Linked DNA regions of Homo sapiens. The protein of the gene in region 1 purifies or fractionates together with the protein of each later gene. This does not show direct contact. Each region holds a gene or a part of one and is shown in the gene's direction. Other genes may lie near its edges.

Region 1 (3,652 bases):
AAAAAAAATCTAACTCCCAAATTATTTTATTTTGAAATTCCTTTACCTGTAAAGATGTAAAATAGCTGTTATTTTATATTATGGATATTATTTTACATGTACACTACATGCACAGATGTTATTTTACACAGGTGATATTGTTATATATACATATATTGTTTCAGGTTTTGCTTCTTCATTTCCTGTTACTTTTTTTTGTTTCTCCATCATTTGCCTGTTTGTACCCACAGTGATGTTCTGGTATTACACCAGAGTGTCCTCAAGTCAGTGAGGTAAAACAGAAAGGCACGGACTTGTCCCATTGCCTATGGCTGGGGACCCCACTTTCTGTAGTCTTAGCTTTTTTTCTGTTAGTATAAATACAGTATAAATCTCTATTTATATCACTCTTCTTTATTATTTGGTTTCTCTTCACAGTCCAATGACAACTTTGGTCTTTAATTTTTTTAAAGTGCCTGGAGCCAGGTGAGGAAGCTCAAGTCAGGGAGCTATGGTTTTGCTTTGGTTTGGTTTTTCCCAGGGATGAAACCTTTTGAGAGTTTGTTTTTGTTTTATTTTGTTTTGAATGATGGTAGCATTAAGAGTCCATGCAGCATCAGCCATTGTTTCCATTTACATTGAGTGAAAGAAGAGCCCTGCCCCCTCCAGTTCCCAACAAGCTTCAACCCCTGGGCTCTTTCCTCTCACACCTGTGTCTTCCCCCAAGGCCATCATATCTACAGAAAATATTTGCCCTTTGTACCTTTTCCTGTGGTTCCTTATTTTCTTCAGTAATCCTATATAGAAGACCATTGTCAGTGGCTTTTGAAAATTTCCAGTAGGTGGTTTGCCAGGTTAAAGACTTAAACACTTAAAACAGCTTGTTTTTTCTTCATAGAAGGGAAACTGATTTTCCCTCAACAGATTGCGCTTGTCTAAACACGTACTTTTCCCTCTTGGGACTCTTTATCTCCTACCTTCATGCTGAGATCCCCAGGCCATGTTTGTGAAGCTATTTTGGTGACAGGTATTTTTCCTGGACCTTTAGATCTCCTGCTTGTCTCTCCTACACACGGGTTTATATTAATTGTTTGATCTTTCACCATCGTGACTAGAATCTATATGTTCAGTTTGGACCTAGTCCTGTGTCCAACAGCACTAAGCTTTTCTGAAAAGGAGTTCATGATCTTCCCTTTCAAAAATATGCTCCATTTTATTTTTCCCCAAGACATCAACATTCTTATTCTCCATTCCAGCAGCTAGACTCTGGCATTTCAGAGGTACTCAACAAATTTTTTATCGAGTGAGTGAATTATTTTTCTATATGTATGTTTCCTGTGTTTTATATACCATTAAGGCTACTGTTTTATTGCTATATTCTTCTCAGTTACCATAGCCAGACCCTTAACCATCCTCACTTTGACTGTTTCAGTGCCTGCTTTCTTTACTATTTGCTTCCAGCTTTCCCTACCTCATCCTGCCCTACACAGCAAGAACGCTCTTCCGTAAACATTAGAGAGATTGCATTATTTATTGTTGAGCCTCAAGGTTTGTTGCCATTTAGTTTCTTGCTATCTCCATTCACCCATTTATCTTTTTCTCCTAAACATTGCATAAAATTCTGATTTAAGCTAGAAAGCAGAGCTGTTTACCAGCCCACACACCAGCTCTCCATTCTACCTTTGAGCACCTTATGCTCATCTCCTCCCTTGAACCAAGTTGTGTTCTGCCCCCCTTTCAGCTTGTGACCAAAGACTAACTTCCATAAATTTCTCAGACTAACCCCACATGCTCACACACAATCTTAGTTAACTCCAGTAATAGTCTGCTTTAGAGCAAGAGCAGTGACAACACAGCCCTATTCCATTTTGTCTAATACACTTTCACTCACTCACCAAATATTTAAGGGCCTACTATGGCCAGGCCCTGAATCAGATCCTAGAATACAGAGATATTTTAGAAATTGCTGGGGCACAGCGGTGTGCATCTTTAGTCCCAGTTACTCAGGAGGCTGAGGTGGGAGGATCACTTGAGAGTAGGAGTTCAAGTCCAGCGTGGACAACAGAGTAAGACCCTCTCTATAAAAAAAGAAAAGAAATTAATGGATAATCACTGATTCCCCCAGTATCCCTCTAAAATAGATACATTAATTTTCTTAATTTTGTAAATGGATGAGATTTTGGAATTTGGTAGCTCTTTGAGGATTAAAGTACTTTTGCAAGAAGTCTTGAACATTCTTAAATAAATCTTTCAGATTATTGTAATTTTTTTTATCTCTACAAAAATTGGGGCCAGGTGCAGTGGATCACACCTGTAATCCCATCACTTGAGGCCAGGAGTTTGAGACCAGCCTGGCCAACATGGCGAAACCCTGTCTCTACTAAAAATACAAAAATTAGCTGCGTGTGCCTGTAATCCTAGCTACTTGGAAAGCTGAGGCATGAGAACTGCTTGAACCCAGGAGGTGGAGGTTGCAGTGAGCAGACATTATGCCACTGCATTACGGCCTGAGCGACAGAATGAGACCCTGTCTCAAAAAAAAAAAAAAAAAAAAAAGAATTGGATAGCACCCAGATATGTGTATTTCATTCTAATCTTCTAATCTGTGTGGGGCCCCAGAAACCTAAAGTTTAACTCCCCTGCTCTTAGCGTCTTTTGTATACTGGGAAGTTTAGCGTTTTTCTCCCTCATGCATTTTCCATCTATTTAATCCTTTTAGATTTTGGTGACCAATTTGGATTTCCATGATGAGCAGAAGCGCCGGAACCTCAATGGAACACTTCATGAACTCCTTAGAATGAACATTGTCCCCATTGTCAACACAAATGATGCTGTTGTCCCCCCAGCTGAGCCCAACAGTGACCTGCAGGGGGTAAATGTGGGTAAAGTATTTCTAAGGGTTTAGCATGCTGGAGACACTAACACCATGCTATGCTGCATGCACTAACACCAGAAGTTTGGCATAAACAAGATGGAAAAGTTGTGAGAGAAACTTGTCATGGAGCAGTGACTGCATAAGCTCTTCTGAACTCGTGGTTGCATTCAACAGGGTGAGGTGCTATAGTCACTGAAGATGGTGCGATGAGCATGGCTTGTATATTTCAGTGGCTAGAAGACTGCATGTTTGGAAAAAGGATTGCCAGTAGACAGTGTGTTCTGCAGACAGAAGGGGCCTGCAAGAGCCGTCATCTACATATTTGGGTTCATTGGTTTTGCCTGATCCTAGCTTGGTTTTGCCTGAGCTTGGCTGTGTTCTTCCATGAATTTCTTTTTGGACTGCTTAGCTCACTCACTTATGACTTTTTAATCTGCATTCTAGGTTATTAGTGTTAAAGATAATGATAGCCTGGCTGCCCGACTGGCTGTGGAAATGAAAACTGATCTCTTGATTGTTCTTTCAGATGTAGAAGGTACAAAGTAATGCTTTTTTCCTTTATCTGCCCTTTGTTTTAAATGCTACATATGTGAGCACATGAGTTTCCCTCTTTCTTTGAGTCCCTCTGATGTTTTTTTGCTATAGATCATTAGCCATATGTTCTGACAAAGGGCTTTTATGACTCAAAACAGGGTGGGTGAGTCTAAGAGATGTCATTTGAATCCTGAAATGTTACTTCCAGGTGCTTTCAGTTGTTTTCCTTAAATAACAGCTTTATGGAGATGTAATTCACATACC
Region 2 (3,652 bases), on another chromosome or scaffold:
TTAAATTTAACTTTTTTTTTGAGACCGAATTGCACTCTGTCACCCAGGATGGATTGCAATGGCGCAATCTCAGCTCATTGCAACCTCTGCCTCCTGGGTTCAAGAGATTCTCCTGCCTCAGCCTCCCAAGTAGCTGGGATTACAGGCGCCTGCCACCACAGCTGGTTAATTTTTGTGTTTTTAGTAGAGATGAGGTTTTGCCATGTTGGACAGGCTGGTCTTGAACTCCTGACCTCAGGTGATCAACCCACCTTGGCCTCCCAAAGTGCTGGGATTACGGGCATGAGCCACCATGCCCGGCCTTAACTTTTATCTTAAGTTCAGGGGTACATGTGCAGGTTTATTATATAGGTAAACTTGTGTCATGGGGGTTGTACACATTATTTAGTCACCCAGGTATTAAGTTTAGTACCCATTAGTTATTTTTCCTGATCCTCTTGAGGGAAGAGAGAGACCCTCTCATATTGTTTCATACTCAGAAAAGGAAAGAGAAGCGAAACTAAAGGCAGGTAGCCTGGTGCCTAGGAACCAGACCGGAAACCAAGGAACCAGACCCGAAATCAGGCCTGGGCGTGCCTGACCTAAGCCTGGTAGTTAAAATTCGACCCCTGACCTAGCAACTGTTGTTATCTATAGATTCCAGACATTGTATGGAAGGACATTGTGAAACCTCCCGTTAGGTTCTGTTTCACTCTGACCACCGGTGCTCGCAGCCCCTGTCACGTACCCCCTGGCTTGCTCAATCACGACCCTCTCACGCGGACCCCCTTAGAGTTGTGAGCCGTTAAAAAGGACAGAAGTTGAGCACCTGAAGAGCTCGGATTTTAAGACGCTAGCCTGCCAATGCTCCCAGCTGATTAAAGCCACTCCCTTCACTATCTTGGTGTCTGAGGGGTTTTGTCCACAGCTCGTCTTGCTACACTTGCCCTCCTCCAAACTTCCGCCCTCCAATAGGCTCCAGTATGTGTTATTCCCCTCTATGTGTCCATGTGTTCTCATCATTTAGCTCCCACTTATAAGTGAGAACACGCGGTATTTGGTTTTCTGTTCCTGCGTTTGTTTGCTAAGGATAATGGCCTCCAGCGCCATCCATGTCCCTGCAAAGAACGTAATCTCATTCTTTTTTGTGGCTGCATAGTATTCCACGGTGTATGTGTACCACACTTTCTTTGTCCAGTCTAGCATTGATGGGCATTTAGGTTGAATCATGTCTTTCCTATGGTGAATAGTGCTGTGATGTGTCTTTATAACAGAATGGTTTACATTCCTTTGGGTATATACCCAGTAATGGGATTGCTGGGTGGAATGGTATTTCTGGTTTTTGGTCTTTGAGAAATTGCTGCACTGTCCTCCACGATGGTTTAACTAATTTACACTCCCACCAACAGTGTATAAGTGATCCTTTTTCTTTGCAACCTCGCCAGATCTCGGTGGTCAACTCCTCCCACTCCCCAGGCAATGCTGATTTGCTCTGTGCCTATAGTTTTGCCTTTCCCAGGATGCTGCGGGAATGGGATCATACGGCCTTTTGGATCTGGCTCCTTTTAGTTAGACTGATACATTTGAGACAGGTCCCTATTGTTGTGTGTATCAGTAGTTGGTTTCTTCTTTTTTTGAGATGGATTCTCAGTCTGTGGTCCAGGCTGGAGTGCAGCGGCATGACCTCAGCTCACTGCAAACTCCGCCTCCCTGGTTCAAGTGATTATCCTGCCTCAGCCTCCCAAGTAGCTGGGATTACAGGCACATGCCACCACGCCCGGCTAGTTTTTGTATTTTTTCGTAGAGATGGGATTTCACCATGTTGGAGAGGCTGGTCTTGAACTCCTGACCTCGTGATCTGCCCACCTTGGCCTCCCAAAGTGCTGGAATTACGGCGTGAGCCATGGTGCCCAGCCTGCATCACAGGTTGTTTACCCAATACTCACCAGTTGCAGAATTCAAATCCATTTTTTAAAAAATCAGCCTGAAAAAAAAAGAAAAAAATCAGTCTGGCCAGGCACGGTGGCTCACGCCTGTAATCCCAGCACTTTGGGAGGCCAAGGCGGGAGGATCACCTGAGGTCAGGAGTTTGAGAGCAGCCTGGCCAAAATGGCAAAACCCTGTCTCTACTAAAAATACAAAAATTAGCTGGGCGTGGTGGCGGGCACCTGTAATCCCAGCTACTTGGGAGGCTGAGGCAGAAGAATCCCTGGAACCCGCGGGACGGAGGTTGCAGTGAGGTGACATCAGGCCACTTCACTCCAGCCTGGGCAAAAGAGTGAAGCTCTGCATCAAAAAAAAAAAAAAAAAAAAAAAAAAAAAATCAGGGTGGGCACAGTGGCTCACTCCTGTAATCCCAGGACTTTGAGAGGCTGAGGTGCGAGGATTGCTTAAGCCTGGGAGTTCAAGACGAGGCTGGGGAATATAGTGAGACCCCCATCTCTACAACAAAAAATATACAAAAATTAGCCGGGCATGGTTGGTGTGCGCCTGTAGTCCCAGTTCCTTGGGAAGCTGAGGCGAGAGGATTGCTTAAGCCTGGGCAGTTGAGGCTGCAGTGAGCCATGATCGTGCCACTGCACTGCACCTAGTTTGAATGGAGTGGGAGTGGGGGATTAGGCTCTCCTCCCTGCCGTTTGCTCCCAGGCCTTTTCCGTAGCTGGATGTGACCAACAGAGACAGTGCCCAGCCTCAGTATAGCTAGCTCTTAGTGGAGGGACAGGAGCCATCTGGGGCAGATGTGGGAGAGAATGTGGCGAAGGAGAGCCGGGTGCAGTCAAGGAGGCTTGTGGCTCGGAGGGGAGGTGGGGTGAGTGAGTGGAGACTCAGCAGCTTGGCTTTGGGGAAGTAGACAAGAGAGGGCCCTCTTTGGAGAGCGGAGCAAGCCAGGATGTCTGGCCTTCACTTCCACTTGGAACAGAAGTGTGCTGTGTGCGCGTGCTTGTGCGTGTGCGTGCACGTGTGTGCGCGCTAAATCAAACACCCTCGCTGGCTCTGTGTTCCCCTCAAGGGGAAGCCAACTCCACGGATGGCGGGGGTCCATTAGGCTGCAGGTCTTCTCCCTGCCGATAGATGGCGCTGTTGCACCGCGCCTGGGTTTGCCTCTGCCCGCAGCCATGCAGGGCCCATCACGGGCTATGCCTACCGCGCGAGGGGCCTTCACCATGTCCACTATCCTTATTTATTTATTTATTTATTTATTTATTTATTTTTTAAGTGTGGGTACTGGCCGGGCGCGGTGGCTCACGCCTGTAATCCCAGCACTTTGGGAGGCCGAGGCGGGCGGATCACGAAGTCAGGAGATTGAGACCATCCCAGCTAACACGGTGAAACCCCGTCTCTACTAAAAACACAAAAAAATTAGCCAGGCGTGGTGGTGGGCGCCTGTAGTCCCAGCTACTCGGGAGGCTGGGGCAGGAGAATGGCGTGAACCCGGGAGGCGGAGCTTGCCGTGAGCCGAGATCGCGCCACTGCAACAGAACGAGACTATCTCCAAAAAAAAAAAAAAAGTGTGGGTATATAGTAGGTGTATATATTTATGGGGTGCACATTGATAAAGGCATGCAATGCATAATAATCACATCATGGGCTAGATGCGGTGGCTGACGCCGAGATCGCGCCTCTGCAGTCGCCAGGCCACTGCAGGCGCCACAGTGGCGACAGAGCGAGACTC
Region 3 (3,652 bases), on another chromosome or scaffold:
GGATGTAAGTTTTTGTTTAAACCGTCTTTTTATGGCTAAGCTTCTGGCATAGAGATTTTCACTAATTTGAGGAACTTACTTCACCAGGATGAGATTGAGTTAATAGTAACAGGATGTTATACTGGAACTTTGCCTCATTCTTTTGCATATGCTTCTTCAGTGCCTGACTGAGGCCCAGAAATACAAGAGACTGGAGCTCAGGGCACCTTTCAGTTGTAAAGGTCTCTTTTTATATGTGGTACACATGTGGTTGCCAGTTGCATGGAAAAGGAGTTGTTAGTTTTTGTTAAAGGTCTAAACTTGATGTGTGAAGTATGTACATAATCAAAACTGACTTCTGTTACTAAATTTGGATTCATTTGCAGATAATTTTATATGTCAAGGAGGAGATGAAAAAAAACAACATCCCAGAGCCAGTTGTCATCGGAATAGTCTGGTCAAGTGTAATGAGCACTGTGGAATGGAACAAAAAAGAGGAGCTTGTAGCAGAGCAAGCCATCAAGCACTTGAAGGTATTAGAACTATGCCTTGACAAAACAAACTATTCTGCTTTCACGTGGTGATAAGTGAACTGTGACTATATTTTTCTAAGAGGATTTATCACATCCTGTGGTTCCTAGGGATGGCCCACCAGTAAATAAACAAATAGTAACATTAGCTATTGATGATAATGCTCTGAATTGGGCTGTGGTTCACAGGTTAAAAACAAGAATATGGCCTGGCCAGGCACAATGGCTCACGCCTGTAAACCCAGCACTTTGGGAGGCAAGGGCAGGAGGATTGCTTGAGCTCAGTTTAAGACGTGCCTGGGCAACATAGTGAGACCTCATCTCTACTAAAAATCACAAAAAATAGCCAGTCGTGGTGGCGCATGCCTGTAGTCCCAACTACTCAGGAGGCTGAGGCAGAGGATCTCTTGAGCCCTGGAGATCAAGACTGCAGTGAGCTTATGATGGCTTTGTCAGACAAAGCCTGGGTGACAGGGTGAGATCCTGCCTCAAAAAAAAGAACATGATGAAAAGGAACTTCAGCTTGTAATTAGATGTTTGCTTTTGAAGGGGGTATTGGAAAATAGGAATTTTTCCCCCCCTCTAAAATACTAATATTGTTTGACATTTACTTGGACTACTTGGTATAGTATTGTTTATTTTACTTAGCTACTTAGATTTTCTGCTTTTTTTTTTTTCTCTTGAGACAGTCTCACTCTGTCACCCAGGCTGGAGTGCAGTGATGTGATCTCAGCTCACTGCAGCCTCCATCTCCTGGGTTCAAGCAGTTCTGCCTCCTCGGCCTCCCAAGTAGTGCCTGGCTAATTTTTGTATTTTTAGTAGAGACGAGCTTTTACCATATTGGCCAGGCTGGTCTCGAACTCCTGACCTCAAGTGATCCACCCGCCTCGGCCTCCCAAAGTGCTGGGATTACAGACGTGAGCCACTGTGCCCAGCCTATTTTTTAAATTTCTGGTAAATAAGTTATAGTTTGCAGTGATTATAAAAGATGAGTTAAGTTCTATATTGTCTGTATTGTAGGAGTTTTGTAATGGATGGTTATTTGTAATGAATGACTAAATCTTTTCTCTGTTCCTTTAAAAGCAATACAGCCCTCTACTTGCTGCCTTTACTACTCAAGGTCAGTCTGAGCTGACTCTGTTACTGAAGATTCAGGAGTATTGCTATGACAACATTCATTTCATGAAAGCCTTCCAGAAAATAGTGGTGCTTTTTTATAAAGGTAATTTAGATTTTGAATTTTGTAAATAACACTTAATAAAAACCCTTATAAACACAAAATTATCCAAATGATGAGTTATCTGGACATCAGCTCCCTGAAATATTTTACTTCTAGTTATGAGTCACCTCTGATTAAATTGGGTGCTTTTTAGTGCACTGATACTTGTTTAAAACATCTAAACCCTATTCACAAGTTGAAGTATGAAATCTAAAGCCATCATTATGCGTCCTCAAACTTGCCTCCTATACTCTTAACCAGGTATACATTCCCAAAGTTCAGCTAGGTGTGGTGGCTCATACTTGTGACCCCAACACTTTGGGAGCCTGAGGCTGGAGGATCGCTTGAGCCCAAGAGTTCAAGACCGGCCTGGACTGCATAAGGAGACCTCATCTCTACAAAAAAAATAAAAAATTAGGCAGGGAATGGTGGCGCAAGCCTGTAGTCCCAGCAACTCAGAAGGCTGAGGTAGGAGGATCACTTGAGCCTAGGAGGTCAAGGCTGCAGTGAACCATGATTGTGCCACTGCACTCCAGCAGCCTAGGCAACAAGTGAGACCCTGTTTCAAAAAAAAAAAATCCCCAAGTCCCTTTTCCAGACAGTCTGTAGTCTTAGCTATGTAGTCATAGCTCTGGAGTCTTCAGCCTGTGTGAATCCTGCTTCTGTTCATCTTACTCCCCCACCCAGTGTTGACTTTCCGTAGTCCTTCAAGACCAGTTCAGAGTGCTTCTATAGCAACCCCAATTTCAGTTATATTGTTCCCTTTTCTCCTGATCCCAATTTTAGAAACCTGGTCTAAAGTGGCTAGTAAAGACAAGACCTCTGTTGGGAGAAAATCCATTGCAGTTGGTCATAACACTTTGAAATTCTGCACTAATCAGACCAGTCTTGATCCCGTTGAGTGTAGTTGGTATGCGCACATGTATTATTATCTTCCATTTCTCATGGATGTTTTTAGCTTTTCAGCAGTTTGTTTGCTAAGCAGGCATTTGCACATTAGGTGGTGGTTCTAACGCTGAGTAGAGTATATTAAAACTCCCTTAATGCAATGAGTTTTCTTTCCAGCTGAAGTCCTGAGCGAGGAGCCCATTTTGAAGTGGTATAAAGATGCACATGTTGCAAAGGGGAAGAGTGTTTTCCTTGAGCAAATGAAAAAGTTTGTAGAATGGCTCAAAAATGCTGAAGAAGGTAAGGATTTTCCTTTGTGTGGTTTGTTTGGTAAAGCTAATTTTAATGTGGCCATAATATATCTTCACACATGCTTCCTTCTTTCTGATGCCATTTTGTACCTGGAGTAGAGATTTTTGTTATAAGGCAGGTGGCGAAAGCTAGAGTTTAATTATTATAGTATATTTATGGCTCAGCCATAATAGTAAATGTTCTTCATGAAATGGAAAATTTTGAGAATATTTAATGTTTATAAATTTGTGGATTTCTTTTCTTTTTTTTTTTAATTAAAAATATAGAGACAGAGTCTCACTATGTTGCCGATGCTGGTCTTGAACTCCTGGGCTCAAACAACCTTCCTGCCTCAGCCTCACAAAGTACAGGGATTGCAGATGTGATTGCACCCAGCCAAATGTTGGGATTTCCAAGTGAATGCTTTTGAATATCTGCCTCATGTAAATAGGTTATTAATAAAATTCGTTAACAGCTTCAAAGTTACATGGAGGCTGGGTGTGGTGGCTCACGCCTGTAATCCTAGCACTTTGGGAGGCTGAGGCGATCAGGTCATTTGAGGCCAGGAGTATGAGGCCAGCCTGGACAACATGGGAAACCCAGTCTCTACTAAAAATAAAAAATTAGCCAGTTTTGGTGGTGGGCGCCTGTAGTTCCAGCTACTTGGGAAACTGAAGTGGGAGGATCACTTGAACCCGGGAGGCAGAGGTTGCAGTGAGCCAAGAGGGTGCTGCTGCATTCCGGC

What was found.
Region 2: the proteins of ALDH18A1 (region 1) and QPRT fractionate together in Homo sapiens (co-fractionation; one large-scale study listed by BioGRID). This does not show direct contact.
Region 3: the proteins of ALDH18A1 (region 1) and BZW1 fractionate together in Homo sapiens (co-fractionation; one large-scale study listed by BioGRID). This does not show direct contact.

Annotation. Positions count from the first base shown.
Region 1 is NC_000010.11:95,632,696-95,636,347, reverse strand, and holds part of ALDH18A1 (delta-1-pyrroline-5-carboxylate synthase), read left to right. Parts: intron 1-2,698; coding exon 2,699-2,857; intron 2,858-3,298; coding exon 3,299-3,389; intron 3,390-3,652. UniProt on the Homo sapiens protein: Bifunctional enzyme that converts glutamate to glutamate 5-semialdehyde, an intermediate in the biosynthesis of proline, ornithine and arginine.
Region 2 is NC_000016.10:29,689,093-29,692,744, forward strand, and holds part of QPRT (nicotinate-nucleotide pyrophosphorylase [carboxylating]), read left to right. Parts: intron 1-3,652. UniProt on the Homo sapiens protein: Involved in the catabolism of quinolinic acid (QA).
Region 3 is NC_000002.12:200,818,390-200,822,041, forward strand, and holds part of BZW1 (eIF5-mimic protein 2), read left to right. Parts: coding exon 1-4; intron 5-365; coding exon 366-512; intron 513-1,592; coding exon 1,593-1,731; intron 1,732-2,793; coding exon 2,794-2,916; intron 2,917-3,652. UniProt on the Homo sapiens protein: Translation initiation regulator which represses repeat-associated non-AUG (RAN) initiated translation probably by acting as a competitive inhibitor of eukaryotic translation initiation factor 5 (EIF5) function.